Homo sapiens: one gene and its partners. The protein of the gene in region 6 purifies or fractionates together with the protein of the main gene of each other region. This does not show direct contact. Each region holds a gene or a part of one and is shown on either strand. Other genes may lie near its edges.

What was found.
Region 1: the proteins of TNFAIP2 (region 6) and ENAH purify together in Homo sapiens (affinity purification with mass spectrometry, with the first as the bait; one large-scale study listed by BioGRID). This does not show direct contact.
Region 2: the proteins of TNFAIP2 (region 6) and FKBP9 purify together in Homo sapiens (affinity purification with mass spectrometry, with the first as the bait; one large-scale study listed by BioGRID). This does not show direct contact.
Region 3: the proteins of TNFAIP2 (region 6) and FGD6 purify together in Homo sapiens (affinity purification with mass spectrometry, with the first as the bait; one large-scale study listed by BioGRID). This does not show direct contact.
Region 4: the proteins of TNFAIP2 (region 6) and DSG2 purify together in Homo sapiens (affinity purification with mass spectrometry, with the first as the bait; one large-scale study listed by BioGRID). This does not show direct contact.
Region 5: the proteins of TNFAIP2 (region 6) and FAM83A purify together in Homo sapiens (affinity purification with mass spectrometry, with the first as the bait; one large-scale study listed by BioGRID). This does not show direct contact.
Region 7: the proteins of TNFAIP2 (region 6) and EDNRB purify together in Homo sapiens (affinity purification with mass spectrometry, with the first as the bait; one large-scale study listed by BioGRID). This does not show direct contact.

The regions. Positions count from the first base shown.
Region 1 is NC_000001.11:225,520,624-225,524,123, reverse strand, and holds part of ENAH (protein enabled homolog), read left to right. Parts: intron 1-3,500. UniProt on the Homo sapiens protein: Ena/VASP proteins are actin-associated proteins involved in a range of processes dependent on cytoskeleton remodeling and cell polarity such as axon guidance and lamellipodial and filopodial dynamics in migrating cells.
Region 2 is NC_000007.14:32,977,940-32,981,439, forward strand, and holds part of FKBP9 (peptidyl-prolyl cis-trans isomerase FKBP9 isoform 1 precursor), read left to right. Parts: intron 1-1,517; exon of another isoform or gene 1,518-1,637; coding exon of another isoform or gene 1,638-1,644; intron 1,645-2,424; coding exon 2,425-2,614; intron 2,615-3,500. UniProt on the Homo sapiens protein: PPIases accelerate the folding of proteins during protein synthesis.
Region 3 is NC_000012.12:95,207,468-95,210,967, reverse strand, and holds part of FGD6 (FYVE, RhoGEF and PH domain-containing protein 6), read left to right. Parts: coding exon 1-2,125; intron 2,126-3,500. UniProt on the Homo sapiens protein: May activate CDC42, a member of the Ras-like family of Rho- and Rac proteins, by exchanging bound GDP for free GTP. May play a role in regulating the actin cytoskeleton and cell shape.
Region 4 is NC_000018.10:31,501,177-31,504,676, forward strand, and holds part of DSG2 (desmoglein-2 preproprotein), read left to right. Parts: intron 1-3,500.
Region 5 is NC_000008.11:123,192,665-123,196,164, forward strand, and holds part of FAM83A (protein FAM83A), read left to right. Parts: intron 1-1,359; coding exon 1,360-1,484; intron 1,485-3,500. UniProt on the Homo sapiens protein: Involved in mitochondrial maintenance during adipogenesis. May be acting by playing a role in the maintenance of normal mitochondrial function.
Region 6 is NC_000014.9:103,126,461-103,129,960, forward strand, and holds part of TNFAIP2 (tumor necrosis factor alpha-induced protein 2), read left to right. Parts: coding exon 1-232; intron 233-544; coding exon 545-1,169; intron 1,170-3,279; coding exon 3,280-3,394; intron 3,395-3,500. UniProt on the Homo sapiens protein: May play a role as a mediator of inflammation and angiogenesis.
Region 7 is NC_000013.11:77,898,410-77,901,831, reverse strand, and holds part of EDNRB (endothelin receptor type B isoform 1 precursor), read left to right. Parts: intron 1-624; coding exon 625-774; intron 775-1,177; coding exon 1,178-1,311; intron 1,312-1,864; coding exon 1,865-1,973; intron 1,974-3,422. UniProt on the Homo sapiens protein: Non-specific receptor for endothelin 1, 2, and 3. Mediates its action by association with G proteins that activate a phosphatidylinositol-calcium second messenger system.

The DNA of each region.
Region 1 (3,500 bases), on a different chromosome or scaffold from region 6:
AACTGTGTCTGATATTTTTTAAATGCTTAAAAAATAATATTGGTGATTTGCACTATAATTGTTTCTGAAAAAAATTTATATTCTCAGAAACTTTCAAATTATTGTAGAATATATATGCCTAGCTTAAAAGAAAAATTAAAGTAGTCCGTCAGGATTTTTCATGGTTCAGAATTAAGGCACTCTTTCTTTGAAAAAAGTCCTCAGACGATTCTATTAATGACTGAAGAAAACAGTTGGAGAGAGAACTCTAGGAAGAGGAGCCATGTGCATTTCCAGTATGTGAATTGGCAGCGATAATTCTGAGGAAAAGCAAAGTTTATAAATTTGGAAACTCCTCCTAGAAAGCTACACAAATGTCTTGCTTTAGAGGTCAAAACATGAGAGTCAAATTTATAAACCATCCAATTTAGGTGGGAATTATTCATGCCACACAAGATTCGGAAGCCAGAGATTTTCTGCTTGAATCACTATTTTGGGAAATCCGTTTAGATGGGCATCTTTTCAGCAAGCAAGCTAAAAATTAGCTTAAAGTGTTCAACACTTTCTTTTCTTACCTTCAGAACAAGAAAATAGTAAGAATCTCCTGCAGCTATATGAATTGCCTGCTTGAATCATCTGTCTGTGAACTTAGAAATATTCTCCAGCATTGTGTCCTTTTCCTATATCAGTAGACACTCCTTATCTTTTATAGCCTGAAAACCCTGGAATATGATGACATGTGGAACAAACTTCTTAAGTCAATACAACCTAGCTGTAAATGCTGTTACCAATAATTCTTTCAGATTCACCTCACCCATGCCTGGCCTTCTGCTTGTGACTTAAGCTTACTTTTTGTGTGTTAAAAGCATTGTATTGCTTAGAGAAACAGCCATTAACTTGGTGGTTAAAAAAAAACCCAACTACTAAGAACTTGAATGAGAAATGAAATGTAGTCATAGAATACTATTTGGTTCAGCTGTGAGCAGTATTTACATTATCATGTTAATAATGTAAGCTGTGAATATTGATTTTCCATATTGGGAGAAGCATGAGTGTAGTGAGGGAGTTGTAGAAGGCATCTTCCTGTTAGAAAGTAGATAGCAAAAGCTAAAATGTAAGAAACAGCTGCAAGAGTAGGAAACGGGTGGGAGGGTTGAGGCAGTGAACTACTGATTTTTGTTATAAACTTTAAAAACTATATATTTATGTTGTTTTGGTAAAATAGAAGAAGTAACAAATGCTCAAAGATCTAAAAACTTAGATCTTTTCATCATAGATTTCTTGGGACAGCTACTGTGCTCTTAAATGTTTCTCTTTAGCTTCTGTATTTAAATTTGTTCTAATTAGAATAATATGGGTGTATCTTTTGCCCTTTGGGCCCAACAGATTGCTTAGAGCATTATATGTAAAATGGCCCATATTTTTTGATGTAGGTTGAATTATCTGAAATTTAATACAGGCTCCAGCTGAGTTTATTAACTGCAGGTTACTGGAGAAACAACAACAACCAACCCTGACTTTCCTCTGTTTATTATTAAAAACATTCTTTTGAATACATCTAATTTCTTCCCCTCATCCCTGCAGATAAAGTTATTGTTATCCCTCAAAAACTTTGGCAGCTAGTGATTTATCAAATAGCATAATGAAGTCCGTACTAGATCCTGAAAATCTGATTTTATTAGTAGTCAGTATCTCAAACAACTACTCATAAATAAATAACTACTCATAAATAAAGTCAGTTTCTTGTGTTTTTCTCTTGCAGTCATTGTTAAGTGTGATGGTATGTCCAGGAGAGGGTGTGTGTTTTATGAGAGCAGTGGGGTTGATGTATTTGTCAAATGGGCCTTTTCTTTTGTTGTATAGCCAGCTTAGGAAACATGAAGGAGAGAGATTTTTGGAAAGATCTTACTGGTGTGTTGGTACCGCTGGAAGGAACAAAGGGATAGCATGCATGTGCTGTCATTTAGCTTTGTCTCTAACTAGACCCACCCAGTTTATTAGCCAGTCCAGAAAGTCCCAATTTGAAATTTCCAAATAATAACTATTGTTGGGCCGGGCGCGGTGGCTCACACCTGTAATCCCAGCACTTTGGGAGGCCAAGGCGGGTGGATCATGAGGTCAGGAGATCGAGACCATCCTGGCTAACACTGTGAAACCCCGTCTCTACTAAAAATACAAAAAATTAGCCGGGCATGGTGGCGGGCACCTGTAGTCCCAGCTACTCGGGAGGCTGAGGCAAGAGAATGGTGTGAACCTGGGAGGTGGAGCTTGCAGTGAGCCAAGATTGCATGGCTGTACTCCAGCCTGGGCGACAGAGCAAGACTCTGTCTCGGGGAAGAAAAAACAAAACAAAACAAAAAAACTATCGTTATAGCCCACATTGAACGTTCTTATGTTTCAAGTACTTCTTAAAGAGCTTTTAGGTATTACTTCATTTAATCTTCCCCACAGTGCTATGAAATACGTATGTGTAAGATAAAGATACTTTTTTTTTTTTTTTTTTGGAGACAGGGTCTTACTCTGTCACCCAGGCTGGGGTACAGGGGCATAGTCTCAGCTCACAGCCACCTCCATTCCCCGGGTTCAAGTGATCCTCCTGCCTCAGCCTCCCAAGTAGCTGGGATTACAGGCGCACACCACCACGCCCAGCTAATTTTTGTAATTTTAGTAGAGACAGGGTTCCACCATGTTGGCCAAGCTAGTCTCAAACTCCTGACCTCGGCCTCCCAAAGTGCTGGGATTACAGGCATGAGCCACCGTGCCTGGCAAAGATAACTTTTTTTTTAGGGAAGGTTAATTGACACAACTTTTCCTAAAGACAATTTGGAACCATGTATCAAAAATCTTAAATTCATACCTTTTCACCTAGCAAAATTTATGTCCTTATTGATCCTATAGAAACAGAAAAAGATTCAAAGATGAAGACAAATGTTATTGCAGTATTGCCAATAGTGTTAGGATAACTTAATATCCTACTGTAGGAGACTGCTTAGACTGTGGACAGCAAAATAATCGAATATTATTATGCACTCATGGAAAATAAAGATGCTGAACTAAGTGCCTTAGGATAACTCTGTGTGTGTGTGCGCGCGCGTGCGTGTGTCCATCCAGAGTTGTACACACAGGCAGGTTCTCATCCCAGATATCCTCAGTTTTACTAACTTATGTCTCCCTCCCTCCCTCCCTCCCTCCCTCCCTCCCTCCCTCCCTCCCTCCCTCCCTTCCTCCCTTCCTTCCCTTCTTTTTCTTCCTTCCCCGCTTCCTCCTTTCTTTTCTTTCATTGTTTTTGGAGACAAGGTGTCATTCTGTTGCCTGGGCTGATGTGTGATGATGCAATCTTATCTTACTGTAGCCTCAGACTCCTAGGCCCAAGCAATCCTTCTCCCTCAGCCTCCCAAGTAGCTGGGAATACAGGTGCATGGCACCATGCCTGGCTGATTTTAAAATTTTTTGTAGAGATGGGTCTTGCTTTGTTGTGCAGGCCCATCTTGAACTCTTGGGTTCAGACAATCCTCCCACTC
Region 2 (3,500 bases), on a different chromosome or scaffold from region 6:
GAGACAGAGTCTCACTCTGTTGCCCAGGCTGGAGTGCAGTGGTGCGATCTCGGCTCACTGCAACCTCTATCTCCTGGATTCAAGAGATTCTCCTGCCTCAGCCTCCTGGGTAGCTTGGACTACAGGCGTATGCAACCATGCCTGGCAGATTTTTGTATTTTTAGTAGAGACAGCATTTCGCCATGTTGGCCAGACTTGTCTCAAACTGCTGAGGTCAAGCCATCCATCCACCTCGGCCTCCCAAAGTGCTGGGATTACAGGTGTGAACCACTGTGCCTGGCCCACTTTTATATATTTTACATGCTGGGGATCTGCAGATGGTTTCTTAAACAGAGCATTAGGGGTGGAATTCCCTACTAAAAGAAAAATAAAGTTTAAAGCAGTGCCATAAATATGTCTTAATTCTCCCCCCCACTGAGATATAAGATACTGTTATTATTATTTTTAGAGACAGGGTCTCACTCTGTCACCCAGACTGGAGTGACACCATCATAGCTCACTGTAACCTCAAACTCCTGGGTGATCCTCCTGCCTCAGCCTTCCGAATAGTTAGGAGTACAGACGTGTGCCACCATGCTTGGCTAGTTAAAAAAGTTTTTTTAGAGACAGTGTCTCGCTACGTTACCCAGGCTTACCTGGAAATCCTGGACTCAAGCGATCCTCCCACCTCAGCCTCCCAAAGCGCTGGGATTACGGGTGGGAGCCACTGTGCCTGGCAGTTACTGTTTTCTTATTGATGTTCAAATGGTCTTGTCCTTGGCCCCAAGAAGTTCATTCACGTTGGCTCCCAGATCCTTTTGTCATCAGCCACATAACAAAACCAGATGTGAGCCTAATATGAGAAATATTATTTCTTTACTTTAAATAAATAATAGCTTATTTAGAGTAGTTATTTTTGAATACTTTATACTTGAATACTGTGCTCGGCTATCCAAGTATAACTTTAAATGGGTGAACTGTATGGTATGTGAATTATATCTCTGCAAAGTTGCTATAGAAAACATTATTCATTTAGTACACATTAATGCTAGAAAAATTGAAACCCCAGGCCGGGCGCAGTGGCTGCCGCCTGTAATCCCAGCACTTTGGGAGGCTGATTTGGGTGGATCGCCTGAGGTCGGGAGTTCAAGACCAGCCTGGCCAGCATGGGGAAACCCCGTCTCTACTAAAAATACAAAATTTAGCCAGGCGTGGTGGCAGGTGCCTGTAATCCCAGCTACTCGGGAAGCTGAGGCAGGAGAATCGCTTGAACCCAGGAGGCGAAGGTTGCAGTGAGCCAAGATTGAGCTATTACACTCCAGCCTGGGCAACAGAGCGAGACTCCGTCTCAAGAAAAAAAAAAAGAAAAGAAAAATTTAAACCCCATGGTTACTTTTAAGGCTTTCATTTTTCTCTTAAATGAAAAGATACAGTAAGGCACAAAAGATTAATATTCTATCTCCCACGCATGCGATTTAGGGATTGACCACACCTTGCATTCCAGGGGCTGACTCAGCAGCCGGCTTTCAGCAGATTTCATCATTCCTTGGATGGGAAGGAGATGCAGGGTGGGCTTTGCCAAAGGCCAGTGGAAGGAGCTCAGGCTTGGCGGCATCTGGTTTGCTTGTCTGGGCCTACTCCTTTGCATGATATAACAAATGGCAGGTAAAACTGAGGGATTGGTTTGTTGGTTAACTTTCTACTATCCCAAATTACTGGATTTTGAGTTATTTATTGGTTGATGTTGATCTTTGCAGGAAGAACTAGTGTCCTGTAATCTCTTCATGTGGATTTCATTTTGCAGATATTCAAAATATTCCCACTGGCAGGAACATCCAAGAGAAGCAGTACTACCCAGAAGTGAGATAGAAGTGATTTGAGGACTATTTATTTATATTTTGGATTGTGGGTGCCATTTTTTTCTCTGTTATTCTGCTTTCATCTTATTTATATCTTGCTTTGGATATACTTAAAGCATTGAGTTTTACTTTTTGCCTCTAAAAAATTGGCCGTTCGTTTCAAAGAACAAGTCTGTGTACAGTTCTCCAGAACCAGACCAGAGATTTGGAATTTTCTCCTTTAAATGTCTGTGGTTTGCATTTATTCACAAACAGAAACCCACAGAGGTATGTATTTGGGTTTGCCTGTGGGTGCCTGCCCACCTACATAAAGCCTTGATTTTCCAGCATGAGTCCAGAAAATATGGTCATGGTAGTCTCTTATGTCATTAATACCAATTTTCTCCTTTTGCTGAGTCAGGTTTTAGATTATACCATCAGCCCATGGTTGGACACCATGGGGGCCCATTCAAGACCTGGAAGAACATTTGTTTCCTTGGCTTCAAAACCTCAAGAAATGAATAACACCAACCCCAAGCCTGTTGAGTTGTAAAGTACTTCCTAAATCCTGTGTCCCGTTTAATCATCTTCTCCCATTCCATTCTAGGGAAAGACATTCCCGGTCAGGCATCTCTGGTGTTTGATGTTGCATTATTGGACCTCCATAACCCCAAGGACAGCATTTCCATTGAGAACAAGGTAGTACCTGAAAACTGTGAGCGGATAAGTCAAAGTGGGGACTTTCTCAGGTATCATTACAATGGCACGCTTCTGGATGGCACCCTCTTTGATTCCAGGTAAGGAAATGATTAAAGTCTTCAATTGCCAGAACATTGTATTAAATAAAGTCTGCCATTGGCTGGACCATGATTTAAATACTCTGTCCATGCTGATTTGTAGTTGGCATTTTCATCTCTAATACAAGTTTCTGTTTTCTGATACTTAGTTCTTTCCTCCCTTCCTTCCTTCCTTTCTTTCTTTCTTTTTTTTTGAGACGGGGTCTCGTTCTGTCATCCAGTGTGGAGTGCAGTGCAGCTGCATGATCGTGGCTTTCTGCAGCCTTGAACTCCTGGGCTCAAGCAATTCTCTCATCTCAGCCTCCTTAGTAGCTAGGACGATAGGCGTGTGCCACCATGCTTGGCTAATGTTTTATTTTTTGTAGAGATGGGCTTAAGTTTCTTCATAGGCTCTTGTAACCATTTCTTTCTTGGGGGCTGTTTTAGATGGTTCTGCAGGAAGACAGGAGAGACTCACCCTCGACTCCCACCATCCCCCTATACTGTGCTTAGTTATCCAGTTATAAACCTCATTATGGGGCCCAAGATGAGGAGTGGCCAGAAGTGATGTCAAGGAGGTACAGTGGGCAGAGAATGGGCTTAATGCCAAGAGAGCTGGGCTCTAGCCCCTGTCTGTGGTGCACTAGCTGTATGACTTTGGATAGTGTTTGACTGCCTTGGACTTCATTTTTCCCTATTCCAGCAACTTTGTCAAGTAGGTGGTTAGATTAAAGAGATAAGGTATGTGTCACAGTGCTTTACAAATTTCAGAGGCTGATCAGCTGGACGGCACTGGTTGGATGCATTCAGCTCCCTTCTGGATGCTGGGTGCCATAGAGGCTAATTACTGGCCTCTTTTGTTGTTCAAAGTTTTGTTTTGTTTATCAGCCATGGCCTGCAATTGTAG
Region 3 (3,500 bases), on a different chromosome or scaffold from region 6:
TTTCACCAATGTGTTCCTGCAGTTCTGAGTGTATCCATAAGCTGGGCCATAGAGAGAATTTGTGTGTAAAGCAGCTTGTTTTAGAGCCCCTGGAAATGAATGAAAATTTAGAAAACAGTAAAATTGATGAGACTTTGACTATAAAAACTAGGAGTAAATGTGATTTGTATGGTGAAAAAGCCAAGAACCAGGGTGGGGTTGTTTTAAAGGCAAGCGTTTTAGAAGAGGAGCTCAAAGATGCCTTAATACACCAAATGCCACCTTTTATTTCTGCACAGAAGCACAGGCCCACAGACAGCCCAGAAATGAATGGTGGCTGTAATTCAAATGGACAATTCAGAATTGAATTTGCGGATTTGTCACCTTCCCCATCCAGCTTTGAAAAAGTTCCTGATCATCACAGTTGCCACTTACAGCTTCCTAGTGATGAATGTGAACATTTTGAAACTTGCCAGGATGACAGTGAAAAAAGCAATAATTGCTTTCAGTCATCTGAACTAGAGGCTCTGGAAAATGGGAAAAGGAGTACTTTAATATCTTCAGATGGAGTTAGTAAGAAATCAGAAGTCAAAGACCTTGGTCCCTTAGAAATTCATTTAGTACCATATACCCCAAAATTTCCAACTCCCAAGCCCAGAAAGACACGAACTGCTCGTCTGTTACGCCAAAAGTGTGTAGATACTCCTAGTGAAAGCACTGAAGAACCGGGGAATTCAGACAGTAGCTCTTCCTGTCTTACTGAAAATAGTTTGAAAATCAATAAAATCAGTGTTCTGCATCAGAATGTTTTGTGTAAGCAGGAACAGGTGGATAAAATGAAGCTAGGAAATAAAAGTGAATTGAATATGGAATCCAACAGTGATGCACAGGACTTAGTCAATTCACAGAAAGCCATGTGTAATGAAACAACTTCCTTTGAAAAAATGGCACCTTCTTTTGATAAAGACTCTAATTTGAGTTCTGACAGCACAACTGTAGATGGTTCTAGTATGTCGCTTGCTGTGGACGAAGGGACCGGTTTTATAAGATGTACTGTATCTATGAGCCTGCCTAAGCAGCTCAAATTAACTTGCAATGAACATTTGCAATCTGGGAGAAACCTGGGAGTTTCTGCCCCTCAAATGCAAAAGGAATCTGTTATAAAAGAGGAAAATTCTCTACGAATTGTCCCCAAAAAACCTCAAAGACATAGCTTGCCTGCTACAGGAGTGCTTAAAAAGGCTGCCTCCGAGGAGCTTTTGGAAAAAAGTTCTTATCCTTCAAGTGAAGAAAAAAGTTCAGAGAAGAGTCTAGAAAGAAATCACCTTCAGCATTTGTGTGCCCAAAACCGTGGTGTGTCATCCTCCTTTGATATGCCTAAACGGGCTTCAGAAAAGCCAGTGTGGAAGTTACCTCATCCTATTTTACCCTTTTCAGGGAACCCAGAATTCTTAAAGTCTGTCACCGTATCGTCAAACAGTGAGCCTTCAACAGCCCTAACCAAGCCCAGAGCAAAATCGTTATCTGCTATGGATGTGGAAAAGTGCACTAAGCCTTGCAAAGACTCTACAAAGAAAAACTCTTTTAAAAAGTTGCTCAGCATGAAACTGTCCATCTGTTTCATGAAGAGTGACTTTCAAAAATTTTGGTCCAAGAGTAGCCAACTCGGAGACACCACCACAGGCCACCTCTCCAGTGGGGAGCAGAAGGGGATTGAAAGTGATTGGCAAGGCTTGTTGGTAGGAGAGGAGAAGAGAAGTAAACCCATCAAGGCATATTCCACAGAAAACTATAGCCTGGAATCTCAAAAGAAGAGGAAGAAGTCTCGGGGCCAGACCAGTGCAGCTAATGGTCTGAGAGCTGAGTCTTTGGATGACCAAATGCTCTCCCGGGAGTCATCATCTCAGGCACCTTACAAGTCTGTTACAAGCCTCTGTGCACCGGAGTATGAAAATATACGCCATTATGAGGAAATACCAGAGTACGAGAACTTGCCATTTATTATGGCTATACGGAAAACTCAAGAGTTGGAATGGCAGAATTCCAGCAGCATGGAGGACGCTGATGCAAATGTGTATGAGGTAGAAGAGCCGTATGAAGCTCCAGATGGCCAGCTGCAGCTTGGACCCAGACATCAGCATTCCAGGTAACAGGTGCCAGACAGACACTTTTGCATGCATCATTGCAATTAACCTTCAACAGCCTGGTGAGTTAGGAATGCAGGGGGAAAAAAAACACGTGGTTGAAGGAATAGTTTAGAAAATGTGTAATTATTCTCAAGTGCAGCCTCCTTTTAGCATACAGTTGGAATGGGTATTTGCAATACAAGCTTGAAGTAGTTAATTTATTTTAGTAACCGATTCAAAGAATTTGAACCAGTGGCAATGTAGGTGCTGCTGCAAGGAAGGCGTGGAACAGAGAGGTCCTGGGCCTCCAGACACCAGCTCAGAAGTCATATCAGGAAACCTGGGGCAGGAAATTGGCCAATTCAATGACATTTATTTGCTAGGTATAAGAAGTCTGAAGTTACTGAAATATGTAGGCATTTACGTGTGGTGCGCTTATCAGGTGGAACCTCCACATTTTTAGAAGTTCACCACTCTTTGAAGATTGGTCATTTTACCTGTTGATGGCTAATTGCTGACCTCAAGTGGATATAGGAAAAATGCAGGAAACACGTAACTACTCTTTATTTCTCACTTTTAAAATAATTTAATTAAAAAAAAATTTTTTTTTTGAGATGAGGTCTTACTCTGTCACCCAGGCTGGAGTGCAGTGGTATGATCATGGCTTACTGCAGCCTCGACTCCCCAGGCTCAAGGAGTCCTCCCATCTCAGCCTCCTTGAGTAGCTGGGACTATAGGTGCATGCCACCATGCCTAGATAATTTTTGTATTTTTTGTAGAGACAGGGTTTTGCCATCATGCCCAGGCTGGTCTTGAACTCCTGGGCTCAAGCACTGCTCCTGCCTTTGCCTCCCAAAGGGTTGGGATTACAGGCATGAGTCACTACACTGGGCCTATTTCTCACTTTTGTGTGTGCACTTCCTACCTGTGGAATACCTACTCCATCTCTCTTATTAAAATCGTGCCCATCCTCAATAATCCACCCCCTCAGTCTTTGGCTTCATTAAGCTTCTACAATTACCTAGTCAGAAGTGTTTACTTCCTATTCTGACCACCCAGTTATGCTGTGATATCCTTTCATCTCAGGCTGTCTTAATGTATAACTATTTATTGGCATGTCTGATGTTCTGTATTTGGTTTTAAGCTCCATGAAGAGTTCTAGTCATCTCTTTGCCCTGGATAAAGCCAAGCAAGAGGCCTAGTAGAATCAGTAGATGTTGATTGGGTCTAAGAGAGAATGAATGAAAATAGGCCAAGAGAGCAACCACTGCAGCGGCTTCCTTCTCTCCATAGTCGCATAGGTAGCTTTTCCATTGTATTTCTAATGTTTGTTTGTGTTTAACAAAAAAGCACATGGACCCTTTTGGAAATCTTTAGATTGTTCTTAGTCCACTA
Region 4 (3,500 bases), on a different chromosome or scaffold from region 6:
ATAATCCCCTGTATTTTATTTTATACATTTGAAATCATTAATCTGAGAAGGGGTTCATAGGCCTCGCCAGATTGCCAAGGAGGGCTCGTGGGTGAGAGATTTCCTGATGGTTGCTTCAATTTTGGGTTCGACTAATGAAGCTTGTGCTTTAAAATCAAACTACATTTTAAGGATTCAATGATAGCAGATCACACTGTGAGCAGATATATTTAGTAGGGTATTAGTTTGCTAGGACTGCTGTAACGAAGTGCTAAAAACTGAGTGGCTTAAAACAACAAAAATGTATGATCTCACAGTTCCAGAGGCTAGAAATCCAAAATCAAGATATGGGCAGGGCCATGCTCCCTCTGAAACCAGTTTCCCTCCTTTCCTCTTCCAAGTGCATACTGGTTTGTTGGCAATCTTTGTCATTCCTTCTCTTGTAGGTGCATTCATTACTCCAATCCTCCATCTGCGCATGGCATTCTCTCTTTTGTCTCTTTATATCATCTTCCCTCTGTGCATGTCTGTGTCCTTGTCCAAATTTCCCCATTTTATAAGAACATCGGTTGTACTGGATTATGCCCCAAAATAATGACCTCAGCTTGGTTAAATCTGCAGAGACCCTATTTCCAAATAAGCTCACATTCTGAGGTACTGGTGGTTAGCACTTCAATATATTATCTTTTAGGGGTCATAATTTGATCCATAACAAGTGGATTCAAGTATCTATAAATTATCAATAATATCAGAGTTATGCTTAGTGTTCTAATATACAACTGAATAATATATATTAAAGAATACATTAAAGTATAAATTAGATGGTGAATATTGAAGCCATAAGAATAATCAATTATCATATCCAAGGATTTTAGAAACATGGATTTCTTACTGGTTTTTGTTTCTAAAAGTTAGTAGGTAATGGGAAAATGGCAGCTCTTAACAGAAATTTTCTTTAATTATAACTTAAGGCAAGTACTTTACAAAGAGATATGAGCATTCATTGGCCTACGTACTCTCTGATTATTAGAAATCCCCGATAAGCTAAATTAAAGTTTCCAAGGCTAATATTCTGTGGTGTGTGAGTGTAGTGAGCCCTGGGGCGGGCTCACTACAATATAAATATGTATTTATAGAAACTTCCCAATTGATCTAATTGTCAGACAAGTGTAAGCGTGAGAATTACTGGTCTATATTTTGCAAAAAAATCTATATTTATGACATAGAAAAATTTACATGGGAAAAATTACACATTGAATAGGGATAAGTGTTTTTGAAAACTGCCAAATTATATTTAAAATTAGAAACTTTAGGCTGGGCACAGTGGCTCACGCCTGTAATCCCAGCACTTTGGGAGGCCAAGGTGGGCGGATCACCTGAGGTCAGGAGTTTGAGACCAGCCTGGCCAGCATGGTGAAACCCCATCTCGACTAAAAATACAAAAAATTAGCTGGGTGTGGTGGCACATGCCTGTAGTCCCAGCTACTCAGGAGGCTGAGGCAGGAGAATCGCTTGAACCTGGAAGGCGGAGGTTGCAGTGAGCCGAGATTGTGCCACTGCACTCCAGCCTGGGTGACAGAGGGAGACTCTGTCAAAAAAAAGAAGGAAGGAAGGAGGGAAGAAAGGAAGGGAGGGAGGGAGGAAGGAAGAAAGGAAGGAAGGAACTTTAACTGAAAGCATAAAGGACTTTTAGATCTATTTGAGCAATTTTTAATCACAGCTTTTTTCCCTTGTCTTTCACTCTGACACAGATTTCAATAGCTTTGACAACAATTTATAAACATATAGTCTACATATGATGAGAAACTATCTTCTCAGTTTTGTTTTTTATTAAGTTTTTGTCATATGCAAAGCTTGGTGATTAGAGTGAAGAAGCTGGAACAACAGAATTCCTACCGTGGTCGATAGTGAGATGAGAAATGTCCATAAGAAAAGAAACCAGACACATGACCCCTATTTAGTGAATCCCTGCTTGATGCTAGGCAATGTGCTAAACACTGGAGAACTATAAAAAAGCCAGACATGTTCTGCCCTCATGGTGCTTACAGTCTAATGAATGGTATAACAAGTAAATGGCTAACTTCCAAATGGGTAACGATAAGAAGAGTAATAATAGAGAAACGTAGTACCATGGAGCCTATAGAAGGAGCAACTATCTCAGCACTGGGTATCCCAGCTGGTATCTGAGAATAATTATAAATTAGTGAGATGATATGAAGAGAAATAGATTCTAGGTAGAGAGAAGAGCATCTAAAAGGCCTGAAAATGATAGTTCATGGTTCTGCAGAGGAACCTAAACATTCATTGTTGCTTGAACTTAGAAAGTGAGGCAGAAGAATGTATAGGAAGATAGGCCTTCAAGCCAACAGAAGCCCAGAAAAGCTACTTGCCAAGGAAGTGTTTTCAGGGAGGTATTCACATCACTAAGTAAATGAAAAGATGGGCTTTGGGTGAGATGGTCAGGAAAGAGTCAAGAAAGAAGAGATAGGATTTGAGTGATTAAGTATAATTGCGCCCAGTTAAAAAGAGAGGCAACAGGCATTGAGGACTTGGTAAGCTGAGATCAAAGCCAGGCAGAAAAGCCCAGAGACCATGGGGTACCTGGGAGGGAGAAGCAGCCTGACTGCCACAGGGAGATTGGTTTGGGAGCCAAAGGGGTGGGAAGGCATTTTGGTTGTCACAGTGCCTGAGGATGCCCCTGGTATTTAGTTCCCAAGGTCCAGGGATGCTAAGACTCTACATTCTGCAGAACCTTCAAGAATTGGGCACGTGTGAAGAATTTTTCTATCCAAAATGCTTATAGCACCCACATTGAGAAACAGTGATAGGCAAAGTAAGAGGTTCTAAGTAGGGATTTATTTTACTTGTCTGGACCCTCTTTTTGAAAGGCAAATATCTCTTGGGTTGATTACGCCTTGATACATTCGTCCACTCAACAAATATTGAGCACCTACTCTGTGCCAAGCACTGTTCCAGGTCTCACCTCGAAATCACACCTGACTGTGGATTATTTTCATCAGTCAAGGAGTTTCCATCTGGCTGACTGGGGAATGTTTTGGATGGAGATGAGAGGAGATGAGACCGTTCAGATTTCCCTCGGTCTAAAACACCTCCATCCCACCACTCTTTCAAGCCCCCTACAATGCAAACAAAAACATTAAACAATGTTTGATACCCACTGCCTCAATTTAATGATCCAGTCTCCTTAGACCCCAAAAGTGCTAATTGAGAAACTGGGCAAGGGTCCTAGCTCAGTCATCATCTTCTTTTAAAACCATTAATCATATCATTTCTTGTTTCAGTTATCGCCTTCCTTTGCTTTCTCAGTATTCTGGGGTTCCTTTCACTTACAGGAACCTGCAGTGCTTCTCACCCCTTTTTATCTGGCCTAGCACGATGGGCAGACGGCAGAGGGGGGGACACAGTACATATATTACTAGGAGACATCAAGTAGGGGTGGGAGACAATGGCAGTGGCCAAGAGGGTGCTGCCCTTAGGACAGTGTGCATGTGGATGTTGAG
Region 5 (3,500 bases), on a different chromosome or scaffold from region 6:
AGAGGTTCTGTCCTCTGGGAGAACCTCCCAGATAAGAATGAAGCCTCCTCCCTCCCTCCCTTCCCCTCTGCACAGATGCAGCTGAGTTCAGTGCTGCCTCCTGCTGCCACAGGCCTTGGGACCTCTGGCTGCTGGTCTGTTTGGCATGACGTAGATCATACCTCCTTGGCACGAGGCCATTGAAACAGGTCAGAAGTGTCAGAACTGGCCTTGCTTTCATGGCCTATGCTGGCCACACCTGACAGTACTCTGCTCACCATAGGACAATGGTGTCCCTCCTCTCAAGATCTCACAGAGCTATGGAGAAGCCCAGGGGAAGCGGCTGGAGGCAGGACTGCCCTTCCCAGGACCTGCCAAGCCACCAGCAGTCTTTTGAGGAATCCAGACAGTATTCCACCTCCCTCAGCCTTAACCCTGAGACTCCCACACTTTACCCACTCTTCCATTTCTCCAGCCTTCCAGCTGTACGGCGGGAGCAGCAGGTGCTACAGGGAAGACAAGGGATAAATAGAGCCATGGTAGGGTTGCAGACTCACCTTTGCTTAAGACAATACAGGGTCTATTGCTACCTCCACAAAACCACCTCCTCTGGCTGCACCGAGCCTTCCCTCTGAACAGCTTAGGGTCAGGGACTCAGGTCAAGCCACTTACAAGGCAGGGCTGGGCTTGCCTCCAAGTAACTGCCAGGCCACCTGTGGCTCATGGGGGCCTAGACTCGGGGCTCCATAGGCATTAGGCCCTTGCTTTTCTTTTATTTGCTGCCTTATTTGAATTCTACCACCTTCCTTTTTTTTTGTTGCCAGCTGATGCCAGGACAGTGAAGACAATTTAGACAATTCAGCCCAGGGAAAATATTAATATGGTCCAGAATCCCACCAACCAGAGATAACACATTTCCATCTTGATGAACATTCTACCAGACATTTTCATGCACAAATTGTCTTAGTCCATCACAGCTGCTATAACAGAAGTCCATAGACTGGTGGTTCATAACAACAGAAATTTATTCCTCATGGTTCTAGAGGCTGGGAACTCCAAGATCAACGTTCTGGCAGATTCGGCGTCTGGTGAAGCCCACTTCCTGGCTTATAAATGGCTGTCTTCTTGCTGTGTCCTCACATGGCAGAAGGAGTGAGGCAGATCTCTAGGCCTCCTTTATAAGGCACTCCTCCCATTCATGAGCACTCCATCTTCATGACCTAATCTCCTCCCAAAGGCCCCACCTTCTAGTACCGTCACCCTGGGGATTAGGTTTCAACACAGAATGGGGGTAAAGGGAACATAAACATCCAGCCTAAAGCCCAAATGTATCTCTATAAACAGAATTAGGAAGTGACACCTTGACTTTCCCTCCAACAGAACATTTCCATCCGGAGTGTGGAAGGAGAGATATACTGTGCCAAGTCAGGCAGGAAATTCGCTGGCCAAATCCGGGAGAAGTTCATCATCTCGGACTGGAGATTTGTCCTGTCTGGATCTTACAGGTGAGCCTTGGATTCATCTCCTGTCAAGGATTCATGGAGAACAAGGGCTGAGTGAGGTGCAGACCAGCTCCCGCTGCTCAGACACAAACACCCCCAGCAGCTCCCAGAAGGTCTCCCTCTGCCCGGAGCTGGAGCTGCATCACATAGATGGGGTGAGAGGCAAGAAATGTGGACCCTTTCTGGCAAGAATTCCAGGTAGAGAGGCATTTCCAGGTGCCTCCGTTTCCCTTGATATTGCAATAGGACGTAGAATCCTCTTCTTTTCCCTCCTCGGATATCTTAGACGTGATTATAAAGTGATGCAATTTGTTTAGTTGTGTGTGTGCACATCCCATTGCTTTTTTTTTTTTTTTGAGATGGAGTCTCGCCCTGTCACCCAGGCTGGAGTGCAGTGGTGCAATCACAGCTCATTGCAACCTCCGCCTCCAGGATTCAAGAGATTCTCCTCCCTCAGCCCCCCAAGTAGCTGGGATTGCAGGCACCCGCCACCACGCCCAGCGAATTTTTGTATATTTAGTAGAGACGGGGTTTCATCATGTTGGCCAGGCTGGTCTCAAACTCCTGACCTCAGGTGATCCACCCATGTGGCCTCCCAAAGTGCTGAGATTAGAGGCGTGAGCCACTGCACCCAGCCCCGTTTTATTTTTTAAATTTTTATTATTTGCTCAAGCAACCCACCAGCCTCAGCCTCCCAAAGTGTTGGGATTACAGGCATGAGCCCCTGCGCCCAGCCTCAATTTGTGTTTAGACCCTCACACATAGACTCCTACATCCAAATGACTGACCACCCATTTATTCTAACAATGCTACCTTGCCTGAGTCTGCCTTTGAAACTTGACTTCAGAGCTTAAAAGATATTCTTTGAAATGTTCTCAGTGGCGGCGCTAGGGAAGTGGATTTGATGGTGGATTTTGTGAGAGGGATGAAATGAGAGAGCAATTGAGGAAGGGAGGAACAGCCGAAGGTCATTTGGGAACATTTGTTTAGGAAGGTGATGAGTGTGACAGAGAGTGCAGAGGAGGGCAACTGGTTACATCTTTTCTTGCTTCCTCTGCTGCAAACACATAGTAGTGACCAGTGAAATATGAGCACAAACATTGGGATAAGCTGGGAGTGGAAGGCAGGTTTCCAGGGGGTGTTAAGGATGCAGTCTTTCCCCAGGGAGCAGGAGCCCGCAATGCTGTTCCAAAGCTAGGTGAAGCCAACTGGCAAATCTCTAGCCAGAGACAAATGAGCATAAAGGGAAAGAGAGAAGGGAGGGCGGAAAAACCCCTACATTTAAAATGTGCTATCTTTCTTTAGCCTTATTAGTGCCGTTTAGCTGAAATTCCACTTTTAATGATATTAACATTGCTACCTCCAGTCTTCCTTGGGCTTAAATTTGTACAGTGTCTTAGTCCATTTGGGCTGCTATAATAAAATCCCATAGACTGGGTAGCTTATAAACAATGGAAACCCATTACTCACAGTCCTGAAGGCTGGGAAGTCCTAGGTCAAGGTGTGGGCAGATTCAGTGCCTGGGGAAGGCCCACCTTCTGTCTCATAGACTGCTGCCTTTTCACTGTGTGACACAGTGAAAGTGTATCTTTATCCCTTCATGGTAAAAAAAAAAGGTGAGGGAGCTCACTGGGGCCTCTTCTGCAAGGGCACTAACCCCATTCCTGAAGGTTCTACCTTCATGACCTAATTATGCCCCAAAGGCCCTACACACTAATAGCATCACATTGGGGATTAGGATTTCAAATATGAATCTGGAACAGAAACAGACATTCAGTCTACAGCACAGAGTATAACTTTCTCTCCATCCCATTATTTTCAAACTTGCTGATAGATTTTAAGTGTGTCTTTTGTGAACAACATATCATTAATTTTTGTTTTTTTGAGACGGAGTCTCGCTCTGTCACCCAGGCTGGAGTGCAGTGGTGCAATCCCAGTTCACTGCAACCTCTGCCTCCCAGGTTCAAGTGATTCTCCTGCCTCAGCCTCCCTTGTAGCTGGGATTACAGGCACCCGCCA
Region 6 (3,500 bases):
TCGGAGGCCTCCTCTGAGGACCTGGTGCCACCCCTGGAGGCTGGGGCAGCCCCATATAGGGAGGAGGAAGAGGCGGCGAAGAAGAAGAAGGAGAAGAAGAAGAAGTCCAAAGGCCTGGCCAATGTGTTCTGCGTCTTCACCAAAGGGAAGAAGAAGAAGGGTCAGCCCAGCTCAGCGGAGCCCGAGGACGCAGCCGGGTCCAGGCAGGGGCTGGATGGCCCGCCCCCCACAGGTGCTCTAGGACCCTGGGTTAGAGCTAGTCTGGGGCCTGGACGGGGTTGGCGCTCATCCGCGTGAGTGAGCCACTTGCACAGTGGGCCGGCAAGTGGGGCTGGAAGGCGCGTCTGTCTCCCTGCTTTCACCTGTGCCGCAATCTGGGGGGCTGGGAGGCCTTCAGCCTAGTCAGGGACACCGACATCACCCTTTAGGGTGTTGGCCGCCGGCCCTGTGCGCGTCTAGGGGAGGACGGTCCCGCTTGGCGCTGGCCGCCCCGCCCGGTGGGCGGTGGGCTGGGGCCGGGGCTGACGCGGCTTTCCCGGCGCAGTGGAGGAGCTGAAGGCGGCGCTGGAGCGCGGGCAGCTGGAGGCGGCGCGGCCGCTGCTGGCGCTGGAGCGGGAGCTGGCGGCGGCGGCGGCGGCGGGCGGTGTGAGCGAGGAGGAGCTGGTGCGGCGCCAGAGCAAGGTGGAGGCGCTGTACGAGCTGCTGCGCGACCAGGTGCTGGGCGTGCTGCGGCGGCCGCTGGAGGCGCCGCCCGAGCGGCTGCGCCAGGCGCTGGCCGTGGTGGCGGAGCAGGAGCGCGAGGACCGCCAGGCGGCGGCGGCGGGGCCGGGGACCTCGGGGCTGGCGGCCACGCGCCCGCGGCGCTGGCTGCAGCTGTGGCGGCGCGGCGTGGCGGAGGCGGCCGAGGAGCGCATGGGCCAGCGGCCGGCCGCGGGCGCCGAGGTCCCCGAGAGCGTCTTTCTGCACTTGGGCCGCACCATGAAGGAGGACCTGGAGGCCGTGGTGGAGCGGCTGAAGCCGCTGTTCCCCGCCGAGTTCGGCGTCGTGGCGGCCTACGCCGAGAGCTACCACCAGCACTTCGCGGCCCACCTGGCCGCCGTGGCGCAGTTCGAGCTGTGCGAGCGCGACACCTACATGCTGCTGCTCTGGGTGCAGAACCTCTACCCCAAGTGAGCAGACCAGGGGCTGGGCCCGGGCCGGCAGGGAGGGTGTCCTCTGTAGGAGGGGTGTCGAGGGGTGTCGAGGTGTGCCGCCGGCAGCTTTTAGTGAGGTCGGTGTTTGCAGAGTTTTGGGTCCGAGAATGCAGGGGTGGGACTTGGACTCCCTGGGGCAGAGCCTGGACAGGCAGAGACTGGGCCTGGACACAGGGATAAGGCTGGGGCTGGGTCTGCGTTGCTCTTGGAATCCTTAATTTCCTGGGCCTCAGTCACATTCTGCTGTTGGGGAAACTGAGGCACAGAAAATGGTAGGGATTTCATTCACGAGCGCCCAGTCTGAGGAGGGGGCAAAGCAATCAATAACCATCCAGAGCTGGAAGGGCTGTGGCAGCAGAGGCCAGGCCCCGTGCAGAGCATGGGCCCAAAGCAGGCCTGGAGAAGTCAGGGAAGCCAGCCTGGAGGAGGTGAAAGCCAGCGGTCCTTCTCTGAGCCAGGGAATCAGGCCAGGAGGCAGGAGGAGGGGTGATAGGGCAGGTAGGGGAGAAGGTGAGAGGAAGGTCGGTGCTCCTGAGCATGTCCTCTTCCAGGGCACTCTGGAGCTGAGCAGAGCTATGCGGGCACCCCCAGGCAGGAGAGTTCCAAGTGATGGGCTAGGGCCACGTGTCTTGTTAGACCCCCATTGTGTAGGGTTACCCTGTGAGCCCGCCGCAGAGCTGGAGCCCCTCAGGTGGGAGGCTGGCTGTGCAGCTGGTACCCCTGCTGAGTACAGCCTCAGGCGTCCCTTGACTCCATAGATCCCTGGGCGTGCCCGTCATTCGCACGGTCTGCATGGAGAGAGGCTTACTGCAGTGTGGAAAGGCCCAGGGCGGGGGAGTCCAGGGGCTGTTATTGTGGGGCTTGGCCACTGCTGGCCCCAGATCCTAGTGTGAAACTTTAGGAAGGAAGCCTGGAGGTATAGACAGTGTGGGCAGTGTCTGCCGTCTCGGGGGCCTTGGGTGGCCTGTGGGCTCAGTTCGTGTTGAAGGGTCAGCCTCTGGCAGAAGGATAGAGAAAGGGTCCAGTGGAGAGGGTGGGAGAGGAGTCAGCAGGGCATAGGGGAACTGGCACAGGGCAGGGGCCACGGGAGAGATAACCCAGCCCAGAGCCAGTTCCCGCTTGCTCGTCCTGACTCACCAGGAAATGCCGGGCACCTGCACCCCTGCCTGCCAGTCTTTCTGTCCCAGTGACCTCGGGGTCTGCTGGCCTGGGGTTAGCAACAGGCAACTAAAGCCAAGCTGGGCATGGAGCCCTGGTGAGAGGGTGCCCAGGGGGGCATCGTTGAAGCCTGTGTGCCAGAAATGTGGGGAACGGAGGGACACAGCTGCATCTGGATTGGGTGAGGGGCAGAGAGAAGGTCATTTGTAAACCTCTAGGCAGACAAAGGGCCCTTAGGAAGTGCCAGGGCTGGGCAGTCCCCTGGGAGCTCTGGGGCGCTGCAGAGGCGCCAGGACAGTGAGCCAAGATGCGTCTGTGGAGCAGTTTGGGGCAGCCCTTCCTGCCCATTCTGGCCTACCCCTGGGATTGGGAGGTGGCCGGGGCTGGTGAGATGCCCAAGACCTGCAGGGCTGGAGCGCAGTGGGCTGGGAGCTGGCTGGATTCCAGGGCTGCTGTGAGTAGGAGCAGGGTTTTATCTGGGTGACAGGTAGTCTTGGAGCAGGAAGAAGATCAGATCTTAAAGGTGGCTCTGGCTGCTGGGTGAAGAAGGAATTGTTGGAGGTGAGGGAAGGAGCAGAGAGGCCGGGAGGAGGCTTTTGCAGTGAGCCAGCGGGGAGCTGATGGGAGCCGGCCAGGGCGCCAGAGTGGCATGAGGCTGCTGATTTTGGGGGCTATTTTGGAGCAGGACCTAATGGGGGGGGGGTGGTGAGAGAGTCAGAGGAGGCATGATGACTTCAGAGTTTCTGTTCCAAACCAAACTAAGTAGATGGAGGACCCATCATCTGAAATGGGGACCGGGTGGGGGTGCGGGAGGGTGTGCTGGGCAGTCTGGGCCTGCCAGAGACCAAGGCTGAGGGCCTGGGCTCTAGCTTGAGTGGTGGTGCTGATTTGGTATAGTTGTCCTCATGCCAGCCTCCCCTGCCTGCAGTGACATCATCAACAGCCCCAAGCTGGTGGGTGAGCTGCAGGGTATGGGGCTCGGGAGCCTCCTGCCCCCCAGGCAGATCCGACTGCTGGAGGCCACATTCCTGTCCAGTGAGGCGGTGAGTCTCCACCTGGGCCAGGGAGGGGCAGGGAGGCAGCAGAGGAGAGGCTCGGAGACAGACAGGACATGGGCAGGGAGCTTGACGGGTCTTCCAGGTGAGCGAG
Region 7 (3,422 bases), on a different chromosome or scaffold from region 6:
TCCTATTAGTAAAAAGAAAAAAAAAGTGCTGCCTAGGTTACATAATTTCCTCTCCAACACAGATATATCTAAAGCAATATGAAAAAGATAACAGAGAAGAAAAAGAATAAGAGATACGACATAAGTCAAAAGCAGATTTTGTCTTTTTGCGAGGTTAGATTTATATGTTACTGAGCTAAATGGTTAACCTAGACCTTTTCGTATCTGTTGTTCCCATTAAACAAACTTGCTAAAAAATGAGAACTTCATCTAAACACTAAGTTATCTTTACATATTTAGGTGTTATATTTCACACAAAAAATACTCTAAGGATAAGTTTCTTATGTGAAGACAAAGCATTGAATTACCAAATATTTCAAATTTTGCCTAACTACTTAAGTTTTTGTGCATGCTTATAACACATTGTCTTAGAGAACTGAAATATTTTTGGGAAAATTTGTTTTATTTAACATGACTATTTATTTGTTCAGTAAGTGTGGCCTGAAAGATTCTGTATGATATATACAAACTGGATCTAATTTAGAAGATAATCATTCCCTGATGAATTTTTTTAAGTTTAACATTTGTTATATAAGATTTTCTTACAGAGGAGTATTAATCGTAAAAATTCTCTCATCCCTATAGTTTTACAAGACAGCAAAAGATTGGTGGCTATTCAGTTTCTATTTCTGCTTGCCATTGGCCATCACTGCATTTTTTTATACACTAATGACCTGTGAAATGTTGAGAAAGAAAAGTGGCATGCAGATTGCTTTAAATGATCACCTAAAGCAGGTAAGAAAATACAAATATTTGATAACTCGTGGTTGAATTTATAATTATGAATATGAAAATTATGATGATGATGATGATAAACTAACATTATTATATACCAGAGCATATTTCCTTTTTCTTGTTTCTGGTAGTTTTAAATAGATAAAGAATATTTTTATATTATTTATTTGGAGATATTCTATATAATCTAAAAGGATCTAGGGAGAATCAGAACTTTTTAAAGATGAATCTCTAGTCACTTCGGTTCCACTTCACATTAACTATTCCATATAAAGCTCAGTGTCCTGAGTTTTTACATATGCCACTGACTTTTTGTAGACAATATTAAATGTCGTTTTAGAAGATAGAATGCTATGAGTAAAATGAGCCATCTTTTAAGGGTCAAACTATGGATTTATTTCAGAGACGGGAAGTGGCCAAAACCGTCTTTTGCCTGGTCCTTGTCTTTGCCCTCTGCTGGCTTCCCCTTCACCTCAGCAGGATTCTGAAGCTCACTCTTTATAATCAGAATGATCCCAATAGATGTGAACTTTTGAGGTAAGAAAGGCAAACTAGAAATGGTTTTGTAAATAAATGCCACTCAGAAGTGTTTCCATCGATCTTTTTTATAGGCAGAAAGACAGACTACCATTTTTCTAACCCTTAGGAAGTCATGGAGACTCCCAATTTTTATCTGAGGTCCTGTTGAGAGGGACAGGGAAGGGGGGGTATGAAGAACACTGGGTACAGAGAGTCAGAGTTGTCAAGATGATGAGTGAGTGCCAAGGCGGAAAATGTCAGGTCCGATTCTCCAACGCGTTTTCTAAATTTCTTCTTTTCAGCCAGCTTCAGTACTTCCAAATGAGATTTTATTTTAAAAGAGAAGAATTGGGCCTGGGAAGGGGAAATGGAGGAAAGTCAGTAGAAATGCTAGAGTTAGAGGGGGACACAGACAGAGACAGGCAGAGAATCATTGTTAGCAAAGACGAGTGATAAATTTAGAACCATTGTATATTGGCATTTTTTTTCCTTACAAAAGCACAGAAGCTACAATGACTACATGTTCAGAATAGCATATTTTTCAGACACATTTTGGGTTATTTTGTTGCAGCTTTCTGTTGGTATTGGACTATATTGGTATCAACATGGCTTCACTGAATTCCTGCATTAACCCAATTGCTCTGTATTTGGTGAGCAAAAGATTCAAAAACTGCTTTAAGGTAAGAGACTATCCCAAAATAAAAAGCTCTTTGTAATATGGCTCAAATATAAGCTTTCAAAACTGCTAATATATCTATCCAGACAGATTTAGTAAATTATCTTATAGTTTCCCTTTTATTACATCATGGATGATTTTTTTAAATACAACTTTTGCTTGTAAATCACTATAATTGTTTTTTCCTATAAATCCTAGTCAGCCACTCCCTACTGCCTCAGCCAATCAGTTACACTCATGGAATTGTTGACCAAAAAGTAATAAAAATTACATGCATTGATGTCTGATAGGCATCACATAATAAAATAAGGGCTAAACATGAATTAAAGGCCCTGTTCCCTGTTTTTGGTAGATTCTGAACTTCGCAGCTGCAATTATTATTATAACTAAATTAGTTCCTTTTTCACATGGACTGTGAGAATAGCAAGGTAAACAAAAAAAAAATAGTTTAGGTTTTACCTCTTTCTTCCTTTTTTGTATAACAGTGATGTGCTGTTCAATGTGAAATACATATAATTCCTTCTTCAGCTGCTTGCATTTTATCATCCTTCTATTCATTCACTCCTTCAACAATCTAACATGAAATAAAATATCCCCTCCCCTAATGTGAAAATCATCCATTTGTCCATGGTATTTCACTACTGGAAAGCTAAGAACGTAGCTCCCGCGTAAACACTAAGGCAGCCTATAACATTCTTCGCCCACTCATAACTCAAATTTTAGAGTTGGAAGAGAACTTCCATCAGGATCAACACCCTCATTTTATAAGACATAAAACAGTGGACTTCTCATTTTCTTTTACAAATAGAATGAACAGAAGACAAGCAGAATGAAAAAATTTTTATATTTAAAAAAACTTCAAGAAAAAAATTGAAGAAAACTGAGATGCTTTTGTACTATATAACCTTATTGTTTACCAATATTGAAAAGAGATATGAGAATACATGGCTGAAAAAATAGGAAAGCAGTATTAAATTCATTGACATGAGAAGATATTTATGTCACTGTCAAGTGAGAAAAAGCAGGTTAAATCTTCTCAGCAAAGTGGCTTAGAATAACTTGGGATGAGGTGTTTGTGAAAGTATCTACAAGGTTATGGAGTATACATACAGTACAGTCTCAGTAAAATAATTATACTCACATTCTCCAGCACATGCACATATACATGTGTATAATTTATTTATTTCATGTATGTGCAAATATTTCTGTTTTCATGGGGAAAAGTCTTGAATTATATGTTTATCAAATATTATCAAATAACCAAGAGTAAATATCAATTAAAAGTGGCTTTCTCTTGTTGAGAAATTTTAACTATGTAGGTTTTTTTCTTCTCTGCATTTTTTTAGTTAAAAAATTATCATATGCTACTACTGTGATTATATTCTTTTAAGAGGGAAAATAAAAGAGCACTGAAAGAAAGGGCCCAAGAACTCCTAATCATACAAAGAAAGTC